Linked DNA regions of Homo sapiens: region 1 is linked to region 2. Evidence: fine-mapped expression QTL. A gene starts in region 2. The other region holds a variant in brackets. All regions are shown on one strand. Distances are from middle to middle.

Region 1 (5,364 bases), 21 kb after region 2:
TAAGAATCCATGGAGGACTTCCCTATGGAAATGAAGTTTAAGCTGAGGCAAGGTGTCAAGTATATGTAATGAGCCAGAGGCTGAAAGGAACATGGGACATTCAAGGAATTAAAGAAACTGTGTGAGCGTGTAGAGAGCAAGGAGAGTAGCATGAGATGAGGCCAGTGATGCCATACTGTGCAGCACCATTATGAGTCACATTAAGGATTCTGAGCTTTAACCTAAGAGCATTGAGAAGCCACTGAAAGCTTCTGATCAGAAAGATTAGATCCCCATTTTCAAAAGATCACTGTGGCTGCTGGGACAATGAAGGGTACAAGAGTGAGGACAAGCTCTACAGTAATCTGGGGAGAGAGATGATGACAGCTTGGACTAAGGTGGTAGCAATGGAAATGGAAAAAAATAGATTTGCAATATGGTCAGGAGGGGAACAGCCAGGACTTGGTGACTAGTTGAGAGAAGGAAAAGAGAGTCAAATATTTTAATTGAATAACTGATAATTAGTTGTTTAATGTCTGCCTCCCTGTCTGAACCATGAGGACAGGGACCATGTCTTCTTTGGTTCCTTGCTGTATCTCCAGCATAGGACCAGGTATCAGTACACATTCAATTAATGTTTATTGAACAGATGGATGGATGGATGTGTGGCTGGCCAAAGAGGTTGTCTTCTGGGTGAGTGGGTACTAGCTCACCTCTGGGCATCAGGCTGTGAGATGGCATTCACAATGGCCTCCACACTGCTGTCGAAGAGCTCCGAGTCCTGCAGAGCAGCAAAGGCAGCCTGAATGAGCGCCTCACAGTCCTGCAGCGGCACCTCCAGCTGCACCCAGCTGGAGAAACACTTGAGCACCTTCTGACGCACACAGCTGGGTGAGCTGGGCTGCTGTAGCAGCTGCTCCAGCAGCGGGAAGACAGCCCCACATTCCACCGCCAGGCTGGTCCGCACCAGGCCTTTGCGGTACTGGGGTAGGCGACTGGTCTGGAACTCCTCAGGCAGCACTGTCAGCAGCTCTAACAGGGCTAGGCAGCGGCCCTGCCCATCCACTGGTGAGTCCTCAGCCTGGAAGAGTCGTACCATATCTGCCACAGCACATGGCCAAGCGTCAGGCATCATGCTGAGAGCCAGTGAGGCCAGTGCCACGCACAGCCGAGTCAGTACAATCTTGGAGCCACTGGCAAAGCGGGTGATCTGGGTGAAGAGCTGTGCCTTTAGGCTTTCATACTGGTCAGTGGGGATGTCACTCCAGTAGCGAGAGATCTTGATGTGAAGAGCACTGGCCCCAAAGTACTGGATCTCTGGTACCTTGTCGGGCTGCAGTAGCTGCCAGCTGAAGTGCCAGGCCTGTGGGGAGACCTGGGCCTGCATCAGCCACTTCTGAGCCAGGTTCTTATTCTCAATGTTGGGATCATAGTAGAGCTGGTGCAGCGCCTGCAGGACAGCACAGGACTGAGCAGGTGCTGGCCACTCTGGATCCTGCCAGAGCCCAGAACAGAGGCGTGACTTGGTCCTGCAAGGCTGCTCCCTCTCCCTGACTGGGGGGCTGAGCAGGGAGAGCTCAGCGCTCTGCAGTGTTTCCTGGGCCTGGGGTCCTGCTGATATCTTGAGAGCCTGAACCTTGCCCATGCTCTACCATATCCTCTTCTCCTTACAGCAAAACATTATGGGTTCAGAGAGGGAATCTCCACAGGAAAGCAAAAAAGAGGAGGCTGATCTCCCCAAAGGGGAGGCACTTGAGGGCAAGGCCCAGGTGGAAGGAACAGCTTCACAGGGATGAAGCTAAGTCTGAGAAGGGCATGGAACAGCTTGAGGGGACTTGACCCTCCCAGGCACAGCTGCTCCCATCAACTCCAACAGCTCCTTTCAGCTCCCCCAGGATCATCCCTAGGTCAGTCCAGATGCTGGCACCAAAGCCAGTGTGAAATCAGAGCAGGACTAAGACTTTTGCCAGGCAGCCCTGGGGCAGACATGCTGGAGGAGAGGGTGAGAACACTCCTCAGAGGGCACATGTCCAACCAATTGATCCAGAGAAGCCTTGGCCATAGCTGCAGCCCTGGCAAACACCTAGCTTAGTGCTCTCCACTAGCAGAATCCCCGGGGTCTCAATTCCAACGGGACTTTATGAAGTAAGAAAACAGTGAGATTTATCTCCCAATAGCACATGGAACAGTGCGCCACCATGCCAACACTGCCCTGCTCCAAGGGGCGGAAGAGTATGGCCAGGACCCTGACCCCTAAGCAGGCTCCATCCAAGTAAGCTTAGCTCTATTTGTACCCCTGACAGCCAGTTATGGCCATTGGCCCTTGTTTGGCCCCTCAGGGACGCCAAAGCAGGCAGAAGAGATGCATCCTCATTGTTTGTTATGGCAAACGGGGGTTAAGGATAACAAGT[G/C]AACATCATTCCCTGCTTTCAAGTAAGGGAGCCCCATCTCCCCATTCATCCCAGGGTGCATGCATTCCTGCATTTCAAGTTGTAGGGAGCAGATACAGAAAAGAACCAAAGAGGCAGTTCAGAAAGATGGGCTGGGCAGTCGGGGAGCCTGGGAGGGCCATGGCAGGGAGCTATGTGGGCAGGCGAGTAGGGAGGAGCCCTGTAAGGCTCCCAGCAGGGCCAGGACCCTTGGACTCAGCACAAAACAAAGGGAGACAGCCCCAGGCCTGCCTGCTCAGGACTGGTCTGGCTTCCATCCAATAAAGGAAGGACCCTTCTCCAAAGAGTCAAAACAACCCAGATTGTTTTAGTTCCAGATTATTTTCTGAGCCCTTGGCTCAACAAAACCAGGTCCAGGATGGTTTGGCATCAGTATAATTCCAGGAGACTGAGCTGCAGGTCTCCTGGGTTCCCAGTTTCCTACTGCACTGCTCATGCAGTTCCCATGGAGCTGGAACATAGCCAGTCTGGACGGAAGGCTAAGTCACAGCACCCTGAAGGGACCATCCCAAGACCCTAGAGTATCTATCCACAGGGGACCTGCCTGTAAGGAAAGACAAAAATAGCCCATTAGGGCACTGCAATACTGCCTGCCCAGAAAGAGAGCAAATGCCAGGTGCTCTGGGGGCACCATACCAGCGGGCACCCAGCCCAGGCCTGAGCTCTGCCATCAGTGACAGTCCCCAGAACTTCTGCTCTGTCACTGGAGTGCCCACCCCAGAGCCCTCATACCTTCTCCACGTTCTCCACAGTGAAGTCCAAGGCTGGTGCTGCTCCAGCCCCTGCAGCCCCCGGCTGCTCCTCCCGCCGCTCCATCTTTGCTCCCTCCCTGGCAGGGAGGTGGGCCCTGATCTGTCTCCTGCCCCAGCCCCTTGGCTGCTGGCCCCCTGCTAGACCCCGGCTTGGGTGCCCAGGGAGTGGTGGGGTGAGGGGGGGCCCAGGGCGGGCATGGCTGCCGAGGCCTCCCCACCTCGTTTGGGGGTGGGAGGCTTGCCAGAGACCAAAATTGGTGCTCTTAGGAGACCCAATGAAGGGGACTCCGAGGAGGGAGCCGTCAGTGAGGAGCTCTCAGGCGGGGATCCTAGTGGCAGGTAACAGCTCTGTCCCCAGAATCTGTGTGGAGGGAGTCACAGGGGAGGGAGGCCTGCGGGGGAAACCGAGTCCCTGGCTCTTGAGGGGTCACAGGGTCGATGGCCTGTACCCACAACACCCCCGCCTGGGTGAGCTCTCGGCTGCTATGAACAGGTCATGGGGCTGGAGGGTCACGGGAGAGAGAGAGCCCTTCGTGGTTACGGAGGCGTCCAACGAAGCGCGGAGATGCAGCTCCGCTAGTCTAGGGCGAAGAGTCCGTGGAGTTGAGGGGCTGTGGCAGGTCCCTTCCGTTCGGCCTGGCCCGCGCTGTGCTCAACGCCCGGCTACAGCCCCGCTACAGCCGCTGCCTCCGCCCCAGTGACTGACAAGACAAGCCAGGCCGGCCGGGACGGGGCAGGGACCTCGGCAAGGCGCGGGCTGCCCCGAGCGCCTGTCCCCGGCACCTCCAACTCAGGCCCCCACTCCTGCCAGTTCTGGCTCGGCACGGCCCGGTACAGGCCGGCACGGCCCAGCGGAACTGCGCGGAAACTCATTCCGGGTCCTTAGCCCTGTCCTCGCGCCAGCTCGCACTCCCCTGAGCAGGCGGTGGAGCGGCTCGCCGCCCCAGGCCGCGGCCGAGTCTAGGCCCCGCCGCTGTTCACCCTGGGAAATGTAGTCCGTGTTGCGCCTAGCCGGAAGGCGGCGCCCTGCGGAGGAGGCCGGGAGCACGTGGGTTGGGGACCTGCAGAGCCCCGCCTGTCCTCGGCCTACCGCGGCGAGCAGGCATTCCGGGTCAGACCGGCGCGGGGCGCTGCGGCCCAACTCCTTAGTAGGACGACGTGACTCGAGGGGCCGGAGGACGGAGGTGGGAGCCCGGGCTAGAGGGTGGAGGCTGGGGAGGTTGCCTGGTCACTCTGGCGCTCCGCTGCCGGGGGCATCCTCCGGCCCAGCAAAGGTGCAGCCTGGGAAGAAGGCGTCAGCACCACCCAGAGAAGAGGAGAGGGGACTTGGCACGCCTCAGGAAGGAAAAAAGGAAGGCTCTCGGGACCACCCAATAAGCAACCGGGAAACCACATACCATGGACAGTGCTCGGGGAATTTCGTAAGGTTTTTGGAAGTAACTTTATGTGTAACTAGAGTAAGAGTAGCTTACATTTAAGTGCTAGGAGCAGGACTTTGCTTACCTTAGGTTCAGTTTTCTTAATAGCTCTGAGGTGGATATTTTTATTCATCATTTTCAGATGAGATGAGGAAATCGAGCTTGGGGAAAGTTAGGCTTATCTTGCCCCTGGCACACAGACAGGGTGGCAGACCATGCCATAGATCTGGTCTGCCACAGGCCCCGGTAGTTCCTGCCTGTCACCCCTCCAGTTGTATTTTATTGTTTATTAACTCCTGCCAGCTACCCTAGCAGGGAAGAGGAAAAAATTAAAAGTGCAAAGAGCTCCGTAGTTTTGTTCAAATGGAGGAAGCTGGCATTGGAAGCTGGCATTGGCAGCAGCTGCTGAGGCCTGAGAAGGTCCATGAAGGCTTCCCTGAGAAGAGAAACTTGATCTGAGCTTGAAGAATAGAGAGCCTGGGAAGGAGAGGGGCCCATTTAGCTGGTAAGCAAAATCCAGTAGGACTCTAAGTCATTCAGCAAGTCTTCATCAATAAAGAATAGCAAGTAGGCCGGGCGCGGTGGCTCACGCCTGTAATCCCAGCACTATGGGAGGCTGAGGCGGGCGGATCACGAGGTCAGGAGATCGAGACCATCCTGGCTAACACGGTGAAACCCCGTCTCTACTAAAAATACAAAAAATTAGCCGGGCATGGTGGCAGGCACCTGTAGTCCCAGCTATTCGGGAGGCTGAGGCAGGAGAAT
Region 2 (5,326 bases):
AGGCAATAAGTCCGCATAATGTGTGAGGTGGGGAGCCAGGCCTGGAGGTGGCCAGGCAGGGTTGCAGGCAGCTTCCAGCTCACATGGTGCCAGTATAGGCTGGAAGAAGCTACCAGAAAGCTGGGGGGCTAGAGCACCCAGAGGACAGGCTAATAGCACAAAGACATCCACCTCAGGGAAGTTGGCAAGCTTGGCAGGGGTGGGCCGCCCCAGGGCCAACACATAGCTACGCTTGCCAGCAGCCTGAGTCAGGTTCCGCAAGTGGGCCAGTGCCTCACGGTGTTGGGCTACACCCAGTGTGCCTGCCAGCAGCCCTACCACGCGGGCATCTCTGGCCCTCTCTACCAGATATCGTCTTCGTGCCCTTAGCCGTCCAGCCCGGGCACCCTCATCCTGAGTCTTCCCTGTATCTGGACAGCAGGAGGAGAAGGGTTGACCTGGTGCCCACCCCAAGAGCAGCCGACTCAGGTCTGGGTCAAGGTCTGGGTCAGGGCTGGCCTTAGAGCCCCCTACATAGAAGGCACCATACTCTTCTAGACGCCTCCCTGGGGCAAGGGGGAAGCGGCGCCCAAAACGCTCTAGGGGCATAGGCTCTGGACTCAGGGAACCCACTGGTTGGGGAAAAGCTGGGCTGGAGACTAGCAGGTCCAGGTACCGTGGGCGCAGGAGAGTAGCCAAAGCCTCTGGAAGAGAAGGAGGTAGTGTTGAGGTTGGAGCCTGGCAAAGCAGGAGCTCCCTCATCCCCAGGAGACTAAATATGACCCAGTAGGCTGGGGCCAAGCCCATATCAAGAGTTCTATGGATGGTATATGGAAATGGGGAAATTAAGGCATAAAGCAGTTGGCTCACCCTTTGTGCATACACAGGCAAAACCCCTTACCCAGGGCATGGGCACAGGCCGGCTCACTCAGCAGCACCACAGGCGCTTTGGGGTCTGGGTTCTGGGCCTCAAAGGCCTTGACACAGAGCTCCAAGGCCACAGAACGTTGACGAAGCACGAAGGCAACGGGCAGTGGGCGGGCTGGAGGGCTTAAGCAGGCAGGGCCAAAATGTATGAGAGCCTGAGCTCCAGCTTGCTCAGCACCCAGCACATCCACGCAGCAGCTGCAGGGAAGATAGCATCAGAGAAATGGGTTCTCTTCTGGAGGCGAGTTGCTGTCATCACTGGGAAATGTGGTCAGTGAATAAAATGGTTTCATTAAAGGAAGACATTGTCAATGAAAGGAGCTAGCATCAGAAGGGGAGTCATTACCATTATCATCAAGGAGAAACACCACCATTGAAGGCAATCACTGTCATAGACGTAAAACCCCATGAGCCCCGGATCCCCAGGCCTGGCCCACCTAAGGCCAAGTTCACACCTGCCGTAGGCTGTGTCACCCAGAATGAACATCTTTGACCCTGTCGTCTCCTCCAGTCGTGCAGCCACAGCCACAGCATCTCCCAATAGCTGGTCAGGGAACTGCAAGGCAACCTATAAGCATAAACCATGGAGTCAGGGACAGCCTCTCTCCCACTGAGGGCTTCTTTAAAGCAATCTTCCAGGAGCTCCCACTCAACCTTCAAAGCCCCTGGTCCCAGAGGGGCACTCTGCCCCACGTAGTAGGTGGAAGGGAGGGATGGTCAACGCGCTGCGGACAGACTGATTCCCCCACCCTCTCGCCCTCACAAAATCCCCCAAGATCCGGATCCTCTGGGCGACCCATCCCGACAGAGGCGAGCCACCCTTCCCTAAGTCTGTCCTCACTCGTTCACACCCCAGGTCGCGGACAAATCCAGCGACTCGCTCCAGCTCGTACACTCCGTCCAGGTCCGGAAGAGGAGTAAGCAGTCCTGGCACCCCGGTCTCTCGCTGCAGCGCCGCCTCGGCAGGGCTGCTAAACATCGACTCCATGAGGCACAGCTTGGGTGGTGGGATGCAGCGGGGACCTCCCTGGGACAGCTTCGGGGCCTGAGTCCTCTAGAGCAGCCCTCAGGGGGTCAAAATCGCCTTGTGGGGGTAGGGGGAATCACAGTCGGCCTTCAGCCGGTGAGTATCCCCTTCAGCCATCCTAACTACTGTTTCTCCGCTACACGTGGGACTACCGGGGAGGTTACTTCCGGGTTTTAGAGGCGTGGCTGATAGCGATTTTGCCAATCCTAAGTCAGCACAGCTCCCGCCCTCCAATCCCCGCCACCGCCCCGCACAGAGAACCAATGTTCAGCCTGAGTCCCAGGCCAGCCGGAAGTACATCGAGGAAGGCGCGGAGCCTTGTGGGCATTGTAGTTCCCCTGGCCTCCTCTCGGGCGCTGGGAGTCCGGTTCAGCCGACCCGCGGCCATCAGGAACACCGACTTCACTGTTAAGCATTTCACGTGCACTCTATCCTCTGGGCAGTATCACTGCATAATTCTTTCATTCATTCATTTTTTTTTTTTTTTGACAAGGTCTCGCTATGTTGCTTGGACTGGAGTGCAGTGGCGCGATCTCCACAACCTTCACCTCCTGGACTGAAGCCATCCTCCCACCTCTGCCTCTTGAGTAGTTGGGGCTACAGGCGCACCACCACATCCAGCTAATTTTTGTATTTTTTGTAGAGACAGGTTTTTGCCATGTTGCTCAGACTGGTCACAAACTCCTGAACTCAAGCAATCCACTCATCTCGGCCTCCCAAAATGCTGAGAGTACAGACGTGAGCCACCGTGCCCGGCTACACTGCATAATTTTAAACTTGGTGCCGACCGGCTCGGGTTTGAATATTGTGCTTGGTCACTTGCTACTGAGTATCTTAGGAATGTCCCTATGCCCATTTCCTTATCTGAAGAATGGGGAGTTGTGACAATAGTACCTCTTAATAAGATTGTTGTGAGGGTCTAATTAATTTATATACAAAACTTTACAAAGTAGTTCTTTGGATATCGCATGCAGTGAAAGCATTTGCTATTTAATCAGCCAAATACTGAGCACTTACTGTACATTAGGCACTTCATTTTTAGTGTTTACAGTCTTTGGAGTAAGAATTATCCCGAGTGGTACCAAGGACATGACTGGCACATCCTCAAGTCACAGGAGATGCTCTGCACAGCTCCAGCCATCCTCAAACACTGCTGCTTCCCAGCAATACCCCCAGTGCATACCACATAGACCTCTACCCTCCAGCCCCTCACATCCCCTCTACTCCCCATGTTTACTTATATGCAAACACCCCCACATGCAACATCACTTGAAATGCCCTCCTTACATACCTCTGTCAGATACGGAAACTGAGGTTCAAAGAGACTACTTGTGTAATAAGACACTAATTCTGTGGCACAACCAGCATCAAACCCGGATCTATTGAACAGGGAAGGAGTGGGATGAATGTGGGAGTAACGAGTTCCCCATCACCCACAAGGAGATTGAAAGCTCAAGGGTAAAAGTGGGGAGAACTCATTCTGCTCTTCAGATCTTACTGAGGAGAAGCCTGGGGTACCTGAGAGGCAGCCTAGGTGAAACTATAGCTGAGGAGACAGAAAGGGAGGCAACACTGCTAAGGGAGAAAAGCAAGAATAGGTCAGGAGCTGTCCCTGGTGCTGATTGATCCCTGACCATCCTGTGCTGGAGGTCCTGTGTAAGCGGGGAGCAGCGGACATATGGACAACCTTAGGTCCTACTTTCCTCTTTTCTCCTCTGCGGCTGAGATATCTTCTCTCCTTCACCTCCCTGCCACCCACCCACCCCCCAATACACACACACTCAGCCCCTTTCTATAGCCCTCCTCAACCATATGCAAGTTCGATGTTGTATAACTCCACACCAGAAACCCCTCCCGGAAGTCAAAACTCCACTCCATTTCTTCCTTCCTAAACGGACCCAGCCCTACCCCACTTGCAGCCCAAAGTCTCAAGTCCTCTACCTAGAAAGCCTACTATTCCTGTCAAAAACTTTCTCCATGCAGCCTTCCCTCACTTCCTACCATTCTCCATGGTAGCTATGGACTAGATCAACCTTTGTTCAGGGCAGAACGACGCAGGACAGAGCTAGGGGCCTAATATTCGGCGGTGTTGATTAAATAAATGTATGCATACATGCATGTTGGGATTAATTTAATGGGGATGGGGGGGTTGATGACACTACTGCAACCACCCCGCCCCAAGGACAATGACAGTATTCTGAAGGGCTCCAGCCTAGGTGGCTTGGCTACAGTAGTATCTCTTCCAACCTGGGAGCTAGAGGATGTTCCCACCATTCCCTCCCAAGGCCTGGGTCCAAGCATCCTCCCATCCTTCCCCCAGGCCTTCTGGACCCAGGCTTTCAGTTAGGTGGTGGTGACAGCAGAAAGGAGGCAGAGACAGCAGTGAGGGTCCAGGTTTACTCTTTGGGAATAGGGAAGGATGAAGAGAAGGGGTGGATGGGATGGGGGCACCCCTCAGTAGTCAGCTGTGTAATCTGTGCCATGGAGACCCCGGCACAGCAGTGTGAACTCCTTCACCATCTCCTTCACCCGCCTCTTGTTCACTCGCTCGCTGAAGGAGAAAAGGGAGAGCAGGTTAGCACCAGCCACCACCACTGCCCCCTCTCTGCCTGACCCCAGGCCCACCCCAGCTCTGCTCACCGAAGGATCTGCTGGCTGAAGGTATCCTTCTGTTCAGGGCTGAGGCGGGCAGAGGGGAAACCAGGTGGCTGCAGGGCCTCCTTGATCCACATGCTCAGGAGGCTGAAGCAGTGCTTGTTCAGGGCGAACAGGATATCGGCAAAGCAGTCCATGAGGCTGCGGGAGGCCTGGCCCCCAATGGCCTGAGGGAGAGGGGTTCTCAGCACACCAGGGTGTTGCCCCTTCCGCCGCTTCTGCAGCAAGAATGCCTAACTGCCCTCTGGACAGTTCCTAAGCCAAACTGCACATCACAGTGAGCGCTGCTTTTTGAGAGCCAGCTGATCCCCACAGCAATCCTAACAACTTTCAGGCATTTAATTGAAGAAGAAACAGAATCTGAGAGCTTAGGGGACCAAAGGCTCAAGCCTCCCAGAAGGCCAGCTGCCTCAGCAGTGAGGGGCCCTCACCCCCATCAAACCCCCCTTTGCTCCGTCTCACCTCCAGCACTGCTATGAGCAGCATACGACCGTCTTCCTGTACCACCTTTCCCACAGACTCTACTTCCCCACACCGAGGCAGCAGCTCTGTCTGCAGAGGATGGAGAGGCCCATCAGCCCAGCTCCTTCCCAGCTCTCCCTGAGGACAAGACCTGTACACCCCAGCCCTACTGTCTGAAGTCCTGGGCAGGGGAGGGCACTGGGGTGGCAGTGGGTCAGGGTTCAGCATGGGACTCACAAAGAAGCCACAGGAGGCCTTGACAGTAGGTGCCTCAGG

The links. PIP is the estimated chance that this variant, and not a neighbour inherited with it, causes the effect.
Region 1: its variant is fine-mapped to the expression of DPH2 in whole blood (TOPMed, PIP 0.98).

Annotation. Positions count from the first base shown.
Region 1 is chr1:43,945,482-43,950,845 of GRCh38, reverse strand. IPO13 (importin 13) reads right to left here and starts at 3,896. Exons shown (of 20, transcript NM_014652.4): 1 at 3,162-3,896; 2 at 693-1,429. The coding sequence starts at 3,245. It overlaps LOC101929609 (a long non-coding RNA gene), which reads left to right and starts at 4,247. Exons shown (of 2, transcript NR_188535.1): 1 at 4,247-4,365. RefSeq lists a silencer at 3,851-4,100. The variant G/C (reference allele first, on the strand shown) is at 2,391.
Region 2 is chr1:43,966,744-43,972,069 of GRCh38, reverse strand. DPH2 (diphthamide biosynthesis 2) reads right to left here and starts at 2,060. Exons shown (of 6, transcript NM_001384.5): 1 at 1,748-2,060; 2 at 1,362-1,474; 3 at 881-1,104; 4 at 1-683. The coding sequence starts at 1,894. IPO13 (importin 13) reads right to left here. Exons shown (of 20, transcript NM_014652.4): 17 at 5,288-5,326; 18 at 5,051-5,140; 19 at 4,574-4,755; 20 at 4,048-4,484. The coding sequence ends at 4,388. RefSeq lists enhancers at 1-387, 173-717, 718-1,264, 1,750-2,029.